2 separate regions of the Homo sapiens genome follow, and region 2 is linked to region 1. Evidence: fine-mapped expression QTL. A gene starts in region 1. The other region holds a variant in brackets. All regions are shown on one strand. Distances are between the middles of the regions.

Evidence for each region. PIP is the estimated chance that this variant, and not a neighbour inherited with it, causes the effect.
Region 2: its variant is the best candidate, but not a certain one, in a credible set for the expression of CCDC50 in monocytes after Pam3CSK4 (Quach 2016, PIP 0.83).

Annotation. Positions count from the first base shown.
Region 1 is chr3:191,326,121-191,331,382 of GRCh38, forward strand. It overlaps CCDC50 (coiled-coil domain containing 50), which reads left to right and starts at 3,274. Exons shown (of 12, transcript NM_178335.3): 1 at 3,274-3,603. The coding sequence starts at 3,555. UTS2B (urotensin 2B) reads right to left here and starts at 4,406. Exons shown (of 9, transcript NM_198152.5): 1 at 4,294-4,406; 2 at 2,511-2,589. RefSeq lists enhancers at 2,841-3,442, 3,443-4,043 and silencers at 2,970-3,049, 3,150-3,429.
Region 2 is chr3:191,299,331-191,304,821 of GRCh38, forward strand. UTS2B (urotensin 2B) reads right to left here. Exons shown (of 9, transcript NM_198152.5): 4 at 5,162-5,218. Among named protein-coding and RNA genes, the nearest start is that of CCDC50, 27 kb to the right of the region's middle. RefSeq lists enhancers at 79-258, 269-328, 2,605-3,130. The variant AT/A (reference allele first, on the strand shown) is at 2,153.

The sequences.
Region 1 (5,262 bases):
CCAAGGTCCAGTGTAATTTATTCATTTGCCTATATTGTTTTTTTAACTTACTTTTAATTTGTGATTCTTACTGATAATAAAATTGGATAACTATATTTATTTATTTATGCAACAAATATTTATTGAGTGCCTATTATGTGCCAAGCACTTTTCTAGATACGCGGATATTAGGGAATCAAACAGATAAACCCCTGCCCTCACAGAGCTTACCTTCTAGTAAGGTAAGCTCTAACTGGGGGATGCTTTTGTGGAATTTGGTAGTTTTCAAACTGGAGTTTTCATTTCTTATGACCAAAGTCTCCCTACTCCAATCCAAGCATTTTATTGTTACCAAATTCACTTTATAAAAGTAGAAAATGTATCATGTAATATCCACCTAGAAAAAAAAATCAATTGATGCCTCCATATTGCCTTATAAATAAAATCCTTATTTCTCTCTATGGCATTCAAGTTGTGATTTGATGCTGAATTACTTGTTTGGCATCTGCCCCAAATTAGGGATCTGTATCCATCCTGAGAAGCCTTATGCTTTCTCTTTTATTGCAAAATGGACATTTCAGGACACCAAAAGATGTAAACTTGTTACAGAAATTCACCATATGTTCATTCCCTATAAATACTCAAAAGATACTAGCTCTTCCCCGTGTTACTGTCAGTCCTTTGCTAGAAGTTGCCTACTCTGTAATGCTGAGCTCTAATTGTTTGCTCAGCTTGGGGACCTATACAGAACAGGTGTGGAGTAGGAGAAGGAAAGCCCAACTATGGGGTGGATTTCCAGGTCATCTGCTCTAGTACCTGAAAAGGGCTCCTGGTTTTCATTACTTTTTCTGCTGAAAGCAGCCGATTCTCTAAACAATAGTTGTGGCTATTATATATGTTTCCATTTCTTCTCTAGGCCAGAAATGTGGATATTTTTATGCATATCTTACTGTAAGCACATCATATTTTAAGCATATCTTACTTTTGGCATATCTTACTGTAACAGTCACAGTCTAGGTAGGAAACAGGAGGTGCACTGTAAGTGATTTTACTGAAAAGAATGTAATGAAGAGACAATTTCAGAGGTATTAACTGGGTTAAGAGAACTAGGGGAGGCCGGGCGTGGTGGCTCGTGCCTGTAATCCCAGCACTTTGGGAGGCCGAGGTGGGCGGATCACTTGAGGCCAGGAGTTCCAGACCAGCCTGGCCAACATGCCAAAACCCTGCCTCTACTAAAAATACAAAAGATTAGCCAGGCGTTGTGGTGCACACCTGTAATCCCAGCTACTCGGGAGGCTGAGGCACGAGAATCACTGGAACCTGGGAGGCAGAAGTTGCAGTGAGCCAAAAGGAACTAGGGGAAGCCATCACACTCTAGGCCTGAAGGGACACTGGAAACAAATTGTTTTATTAGAGACCCATGAGAGCTGAGGCCATGGAAAAGAGGCCTCTACACAGGCCCTGTAGTCATAGAGGGACAGGACTGTGGCCAAAATTTTGGGTTAAAGGAAAGAAGAATACTCTGATATTTCTCTCCTCCCTTCTTTTGATTTTCTGCCAGTGCTTCCCATTGGTCAATCACAACAGGAAGCCACAGGTCAAAGGGGCCTAGTGATTTATCTGTAGGCATCCAAAGGCACGGCTTGGTAGAGAAGTAGAAACGATAGATTTGGGGAGGGAAACAGAAAATACTGCTGTTATAAATATTCTCTAGACCACAGGAAGTTAAAAAAAATTACTAGATTACAGGACAATTAAAAAATTCCCATAAATCTACCTTTCTAATACCACTTCCTTCTTATTCCCACATTTAACCTGCTGAGTGTTATCTCTGCCTAGCACTGGGGTGGGTAAACTTTTCCTGTAAAGCATATTTTAGACTTTGAGGCTTAAGAGGCAAGGTCGAAAATATTATGTCCTATTTATGTAGTGATTTGAAATGTAATTATTTGAACATATAAAAAACAGTCATTCAAATTCAGTGGCGTAGATTTGGCCTGTGGGCTATACTTTGCTACCCTCTGGCCTTGAAAGTCTTCTAAATTTTTGCTAGCCTAAAATCCACCTACTTTTCAATGTCAAGTTCAAATAAAACCTCCCCTACGTGGCCTCTCATACTGGGACTCTGAGCTGTGAGTGACAGAAAATCAACTATTACTAGCTTAAGCAAAACTGAGGATAAGTTGAGAGTTTGCGGGTTGTAGATCCCAGAATCCAGGAGTTGCTGAAATGCCAGCTGCTCTGGGGATATCCTGCTTTGCTACTGTGGTAACATCAGAACATGCCCTCTTCATCTCCCTTTCTCTTCTCTTTGCTTCTGTCTTCAGTTTGGCCTCATCATCTCCTAGAGGCAGATCTTTTCCACAAGAAACAGAATATGTAACTCTTTATGTACCCAGGAAAGTATTCTGTTTGACCTGTCTTGGTCACCCAGCCACCCTTCGATGAACCCATGTCGGTGGAGGAAGGGGGAAGAGTGATGGGGTAGTCTCGAGGTTCAGACATGGCACACGTTTGGGAGAGAAGCTCACCTCTGAGGAGTGGGGAAAGAGGCAGTTTCCCAAAAGGAGGATGCATTCTGTTGCCAGGAGATGAAACAGGAGAGGTTGTCTATTTTAGAGAGATAGAAATGTCACAATTACAATCCAATGTGTGCAGCGCTATAACAGAGATAAGTCTGACGCCTCGTTATCACCCACAGTACCTAACATCACACTTGGTAGACACATTCATGCGATTTTGATGAATGAATGACTCAGTTCTCCCAGCTGATTGTGTACACACTCTACTCCAAACTGGCCCAGAATTTTATCAGCTGCTCTTCATTCTGTACGTTGTATTTGGGGTTTTTATGGCCATCTACCATCTCTCCTCTAATTCCGGGTGCAAAAAGAGTGTATGAGAGAGAGGCAAGCATGCAGTAAACATCCTGTGTTAATCTCAATCCCAGAACCAGACCACAGAATGCTGACTACACCGCTCACGGGAAAGACTATGTTTTAGGTGACCCGTGTGGCCTTTTTGTTGAGGCCTTTAGGATACAAGGCCCCCACCTAAAGACGCGACCCTCCCGTAGGAGGGGGGCAGGGCCCGGGGGCGGGAGCACAGCGGGGCCCCAGCCTCAGGCGGCGCGTCACTGAGCACAAAGGAGACAACAGCGAGGCGGCAGCGGGCGCTGATCTTCGCTCGCCAGCCACTCGCAATTGCGGTTACAGACCTGCAGCTCCCCCTCCCCCAGCCGGCCCGCCCGCCTTTCTGTCTCCTCTCTCCCTCCGTACTGGACGGCCCCGGTCCATTTCCGGGCTCCGGATATTTGGTATCGATTGGGGCCGGGGACGCGGAGCAGGTGGCCGCGGCGGGGCAGCTGGGCCGCCAGCTTGGTGCCTCGGGGACCGTCTCCCGCTGCTTTGGTCACCAGCCCCTGCCCGCCCGACCCGCTCCGTTCTCCGGCCTGCGAGCCCTGCCGGCCGGACTTTGCGCCGCGTCCGGCGCTGCTGCTGCGCTCGGGGCCCCGCTCGGCGCCGGCGGTGACCGGGAAGCCCGCGTTAAAGGGGCAACCGGGACCCTGGCCCGGTATGGCTGAAGTCAGCATCGACCAGTCCAAGCTGCCTGGAGTCAAGGAAGGTAAGGGCCCCGGAGGGAGAGCGCGCGGGACCCTCCCCTCTCCCAGCCCGAGGTTCTCTCAGGTCAGGGGCGTTGCCATTTCGGCTCCCGCGGCCCTCGCCCGGTGCCCGCCCTGCGTTGGCCTTGCCCGGACGTGAAAGGAATTGAATTCAGGTTCTAGTGTGGGACGTTGGGCAAGTCTCCGACGTTCCAAGCCCGTTTTTTCTCAAGGGGGTGGTTGGGGGGGGGGGGGGCTAGCAGCAGCCCCAGCAAGTAGGTGGCTGTGCCCGTGTTCTCGTGCATCGCAAAGCCTCAGTGGACGCTGAGAGCCGGGTGAATCTGACTTACTCCGCTTCTAAAAAATCGAGGCCCAGCCTGGCTGGCTTGAAGGCTGGGAAGTGGAGAGGGGTTGACATTCAGTTCCGTGTGGAGCCTTTGTTTTGAAACATGACTCTTTCCCTCCTTCTCTCCCTACTTTTCCTAGGCCGGCGTCTGGCTGGCTGACTTTCCCACCTTCCTCAAGGTTTAAAAGTTTAGTCTTGGCTGTGTTCTGCGCGGGCGGGAAGCCACTATAAGCATTTTCTTACAAACAAAACACACACACACACACACACACACACACACACAATAGTGAGCGAGGGGAACAGGGGACTGATGGCCTTGTCATTGCTTTTTGTACCAATGTCCAGGAAAGTAGAGATTAGTACTGACCTGGCTTTAGCTGACAGCAAGTAGCCTTTTGACTTCCCTTCTCTTGTTTTTCCACTAGCTGCCTCAGGACCTAGCTTTTTTTTGCTGAGATCTTAGGTGCTGGATCGCCTTATGCCTTGAGTTATCTTTGTTTATTCTTTGGTCCTAGGAAGCATAGACGTTCCAGAGTGCTGACGCAGACCCCTAAGTTCCAAGGGCTTTGCAAAATCGGCTTCTGTTGTGAATGTCATTTGTATCGATTGAATACTGTAGCCTGAGGCGTCTTGGAGATGTGGAATTGAAAATAGTTTTTGCTTTCTTGGAACCGCTTGTTTTATTGCCAACTTAATTTGACTCCGTTGGTCTTGTGTGTGCTCAGGCCAGCCCAAAAATCTCAGGAAAATGAGGGACTGCTTGATTGCTTTCTCAGAGTTTCAAGCACTAGGAGACTAGTGACTAGTGGTCACTGATTTTATGTAGAATTTCTGATGGGCCTAGTTCTGTCTTACTGTTCCGGAAGGGTGTTAAAGCTTAGGCGTGAGATTTTAGCGTTAATACTTTTCTACCTTTCCGTCCCTGGTATGGCTTTGATGAAGACTTAGGGCTTTCACCTGTAGAAAACAGTTTTCACTCTGCTGTCAAGACTAAGGAGGCTGAGCGATAGGAAAGGCGGATCCATACTTTTGAGAGTTCTTATCTTAGAGATTGTCTGGTTATCCTTTACTTTTGGATATGAGGGTTTTTTGTGTGGGTATGTGTTGGGTTTGTCTCTAGAGAAAGAGTGATCCTTGTGCAGTGTGTAGTGCATGGTGAGTAGAATGAGAATTGGAGTTCAAACAAAACCTGGTATGTATAGTATTAATCATATGGTGCTATGATTTTATCCAATCCCCTATTCATGTGAGTGAAAAAACATAAAACTCTTCATATACATTTATATTACCCTTAGGTCTTCTGATTTCGTACCAAGACATGAATGATGTATTCTAA
Region 2 (5,491 bases), 27 kb before region 1:
AGGACGGAAGGATGGTTTTGTGGGCCAGGGCAAGGGCCCCAATACCCTTTGCAGCCTCTGGACACTGCTCTTCACAGCTCAGTTGCTTCAGCTCCAGCCACGTCTAAAAGGACCCCAGATACAGCTCAGGCTGCTGCTTCAGGGAGTGCAAGCCATGAGCCTTGGCAGCTTCCATGTGGTGTTAAACCTGTGGGTGCACAGAGTGCAAGAGTTGGGGCTTGAGAGCCTCCACCTAGATTTTAGAGATGTACGGCAAAGCCTGGATGTCCAGGCAAAAGCCTGCTGCAGTAGCTGAGCCCTCATGGAGAACCTCTACTAAAGCAGTGCAGAGGGGAAGTGTGGGGGTGGAACCCCCACACAGAGTCCCCACTGGGGCATTGCCTAATGGAGCTGGGAGAAGAAGGCCACCATCCTCCAAACACCAGAATTGTAGATACACCAACAACTTGTGCCCTGCACCTGGAAGAGCCACAAGAAATCAACACCAGCCCTTGAGAGCAGCCACGGGGGCTGAACCCTGCAAAGTCACAGGGGTGGAGCTGCCCAAGACCTTGGGAACCCACTCCTTGCATCAATGTGCCCTGGATAGGAGACATGGAGTCAAAGGAGATTATTTTGGAGCTCTAAGATTTAATGACTGCCCCATTGGCTTTCAGACTTGCATGGTGCCTGTAGCCCCTTTCTTTTCTTTTTTTAACATTTTTTTTTATATATACACATATATACATTTTTTCTTTGACACGGAGTTTTCGCTCTTTCACCCAGGCTGGAGTGCGGTGGTGCAATCTCGGCACGCTGCAACCACTGCCTCCTGGTTCAAGCGATTCTCCCAGCTCAGCCTCCCGAGTGGCTGGGATTACAGGCGCCCACCACCATGCCTGGCTAATTTTTGTATTTTTAGTAGACATGGGGTTTCACCATGTTGGCCAGGCTGGTCTCAAACTGCTGACCTCATGATCCGCCCACCTCAGCCTCCCAAAGTGCTGGGATTACAGGTGTGAGCCACCGTGCCTGGCCTGTAGCCCCTTTCTTTTGGCCAATTTATCCCTTTTGGAATGGGAGTATTTACCCAATGCCAGTAAATCCATTGTATCTTGGAAATAACTAACTTGTTTTTAGTTTTACAGGCTCATAGGCAGAAGGCACTAGCTTTGTCTCAGATGAGACTTTGGACTAACTTTTGAGTGAATCCTGGAATGAGTTAAGACTTGGGGGACTGCTGAGAAGGGATGGCTGTATTGCAATGTGAGAAGGATGTGAAACGTGGGAGGAGCCAGAGGCAGAATGACATGGTTTGGTTCTGTGCCCTCACCCAAATGTCACATCAAATTGTCATCTCCAGTGTTGAAGGTGGGGCCTGGTGGGAGGTGATTGGATCATGGAGGTAGAATTCCCCCTTTGGGGCTGTTCTCATGACATCTGGTTGTTTAAAAGTGTGTGGCAACTGCCCCCTCTCTCTCTTGCTCTTGCTCTGGCCATGTAAGATGTGCCTGCTTTATGTTTGCCTTCAGGTATAATTGTAAGATTTCTGAGGCCTCCCCAGAAGCTCTATGTTTTCTTTACAATCTGCAAAACCATACAATAAGTAAACCTCTTTTTAAAACAAATTACTCATTCTCAGGTATTTATTTATAGCAGTTTGAGAAAAAACTAATATTCTTGGTATGGTTACTCTTTTTCCTCCATAAATCTATTTTTGTGTGCATTCCATTTTATCACTTTTTCTTCTTTATTTATGAAAGTGACTTACTGCCCTAACCAAAATATGTCACCTTCTTTCCTTGACTAACCCAGCCTGTTCCTCTTTAGGTGGATTTTAGCTGTCTTTCCGGGTGGTGAAACAGATTCAAGAATTTGCATAAGCTTTAGTGAAACTAGAAAAGAAAATTTGTCTCATTCTAGCTGGTGCCCTAAAGATTTGAATGGAAAAAAATACAGTAGTTCAGACATCCCTGGCTTTGCAAAATGCCATTTTGCTCAGTCTTCATTGAGTCACAGTGCCACTACCTTGTCTTCCACAAGTTTCACTGAGTTTCTCACCACAAGAGTGTTGAGAACTGTGAAGATTCTTCAATGTTATCAAAACATTGAGTTATAGATGAAGTTAGATACTGAACAATTGGTATTTGTTTTATTAACTAAATTTTTGGTA[AT/A]TTTTTTTTTTTTTTTTTTTTGAGATGGAGTCTCGCTCTGTCGCCCAGGCTGGAGTGCAGTGGTGTGATCTCGGCTTGCTGCAAGCTCCGCCGCCTGGGTTCACACCATTCTCCTGCCTCAACCTCCCGAGTAGCTGGGACCACAGGCGCCCGCCACCATGCCCGGCTAATTTTTTTTTGTATTTTTAGTAGAGACGGGGTTTCACCGAGTTAGCCAGGATGGTCTCGATCTCCTGACCTTGTGATCCGCCCGCCTCGGCCTCCCAAAGTGCTGGGATTACAGGCGTGAGCCACCACGCCCGGCCAATTTTTGGTAATATTAATACATCTATGGAAACCCTATTCAAAGAGCAGTGCTCTAGAAAGATGTCATTATCAAAATGAGATTTCTTCCTCTGACAGAATCTGTTAGATGGAGTCAATATTTATGGAGTTTTTATCCTGCTTGTGTCAGAGGCATTTGAAACAGAGTGACATCATCTTGAATAGGGGCTGGGTAAAATTAGGTTGAGGTCTGCTGGGCTGCAATCCCAGGGGGTTAGGCATTCTTAGTCACAGGATGAGATAGAAGGTCAGCACAAGATGCAGGTCATGCAGACACTGACCTGATAAAATAGGATGCAATCGAAAAGCAGGCCAAAACCCACCAAATTCAAGATTGCGCTGAAAGTCACCTCCGGCCATCCTCACTGCCCATTGTAAGCTAATTGTAATGTATTAGCACACTAAAAGACACTCCCGCCAGCATCATGACAGTTTACAAATGCCATGGCAACCTCTGAAAGTTACCCTGTGTAGTCTTAAAGGAGGAGAAACCCTCAGTTCCTCTAATTTCCCACCCCTTTCCAAGGAAACTCATGAAAAATCCACCCCTTGTTTAGCATATGATTAAGAAATAACCATAAACACAGCCAACCAGCAGCCCTCAGGGCTGCTCAGCCTATGGAGTAGCCATACTTGTATTCCTTTATTTTCTTAACAAATTTGCTTTCACTTAATTCTGTTGGCTCACTCTTGAATTCCTTCCTGGGCAAAGCCATGGACCCATGTGGCCTCCCAGGCTGAAACTCAATTCTAGGTTTCAACCTGTGACACCTGTATAATTTATACCTCCTGCCTGTATATGATTGTTTAGCTGAGCTGTTCGTTAAGTCCATTAACTACTATAACAACATAAACTCAGATTTATTGGCACTACTGTTTGCTTTGCTAAGACATGGAGATTGAGAAGAAAGGATTCTCTGGAAGGCAAAGGTTGTAGAAACTGTTGGGACTCAGAAAAATTATGCCCCAGAATATGGCACTTTTGTTACGCTGAGTGCTTTGAACTAAAGGAGAAACAAGGCCTCTCTGACCTTCTCTGTTCCCCTAGTCTCTTGCTCCTCTTTCCCTCCCAAAGCAGGCATGAAGAGGCTCTCTCTAAAGTTCCCTTAACTCACTAAAGAAAGTTCCTGTGAAAGGAATGCAATTGTCATGAGGCCCCTCCTTACAATAATATCATCAAATAGCGAAGATTAACTAACAGGAAAGGAGAAAAAAGATTGACACTACCTATTCTTCTGTGGACTGCTACCTGAGAAACTTCATCTGCACAAAAACAGCATTTGTTCCTCATGTGTTTCTTCCCTTCAGCACCCCATAACCTGTGGCCGCCTGACTCTAGATGTCCCAGTCCCCTATATCTTTTTGTAGCTGAGGATACTGTATAAACTTCAACCACCCAACTCTTCTGGGAGTCTCATACTTTGTAGGACCCACGTGCATATCCACATAATAAACTTGTGGTATCTTTTCTCTTGTTAATATATCTGCTGTCAATTTATTCCAGAGACTCAAATTGTCAAACTTTCAGAGGGTGGAAGGAAAATTCCCCTCACCCCTATAAAACTATCAATTTTATTGTCTTCTGAGGTTCAGCTCCAATCATAGCTTTAGCATGAGATATCTCTAACAGACATCCCACATGTCCTTTGAACACACATTTGCTCTGAAAAGGAAGAATTCAAGATAAAAATTTGGGCAGTAGTGTCTGGAAACACATTTCCTTAAAAAAAAAAAAAAAACTCACTGTTAATTCACAAATGCCTATTTATCTCTAACCATGTGACTATCATGTTACGAGGTTTAAAATCATTCAAGAAGTTGTGTTCCTTATTGAAAAGAGCCTATCACTAGGACTCAGAATGCCTAGATCTAATCTATGATGCACTACTCACAAATATTATGACATTGGATGAGTTCTGATGTTTTTATCTTGTTTCTCTCCCAATGTTTTTCCTTGTATTTCAGATTGACAGTACAATGAACAGTTGTCTGCGGAGTATCACATGTGGTTTTGACCAATGCTCATGCCATTTAAGATTAGAATCTGGCCACGCAGATGTGGTCAGAGAACAGGATGAGGCACACACTTAGTTAGGTCCAGCTTGGTCCCAGACTCTTCAATGGGGAAGGATATATTGCAGAAGAAAGAATTGCCTGGTGGCTTTTTTTTTTTCTTTTCTGAGATGGAGTCTTGCTCTGTTGTGCCAGCTGGAGTGCAGTGGCGCAATCTCGGCTCACTGCAACCTCCGCCTCCTGGGCTCAAGAGATTCTCCTACCATAGCTGGGATTACAGGCATGCGCCACCATACCCGGCTCATTTTTGTACTTTTAGTAGAGACGGGGTTTCACCATGTTGCCCAGGCTGGTCAAGAACTCCTGACCTCAAGTGATCCACCTGCCTCGGCCTCCCAAAGTGTTGGGATTACAGGCGTGAGGCACTGCGCCCTGCCTGGCTGGTGGCTTTTAAAGGAAACCTGAAGCAAACTTCATCTAGTGAAAGATGGGAATTTGAGAAATAAATATGCTGGTTTCCTTGATCTTCACTGGGGCAACTCTGAAATATGTTGCTCACCATCATCCCAGTTCGCTAGAGAGGTTATGTTCCAGTTGCCCACGTTGGTAACTAGCTAGTTAACATATTCTATTGGCATTTTTCCTTTCCCAGGTACATTTCTCCTACTCACCATTCTCTCGTGCTATTTCCTCCCAAATAAACTCCTTTGACTTGGATCCTTCTGCTTCTGCAGAAAGCAAATTTATACAATGTGAATATAATGCTCTCGTATCCTCTTTAACCTCAAATTCTATTGTACAGAAACTCACCAAACACTAGCTATTTTTATATTGATTGTCATTTTTTCTTTTTAAACTTTTAAGTTCAGTGGTACATGTGCAGGATGTGCAGGTTTGTTACATAGGTAAAAGTGTGTCATGGGGTTTGTTATACACATTATTTCATAACCTAGGTAGTAAGCATATATCCATTAGTTATTTTTCCTGATCCTTTCCCTCCT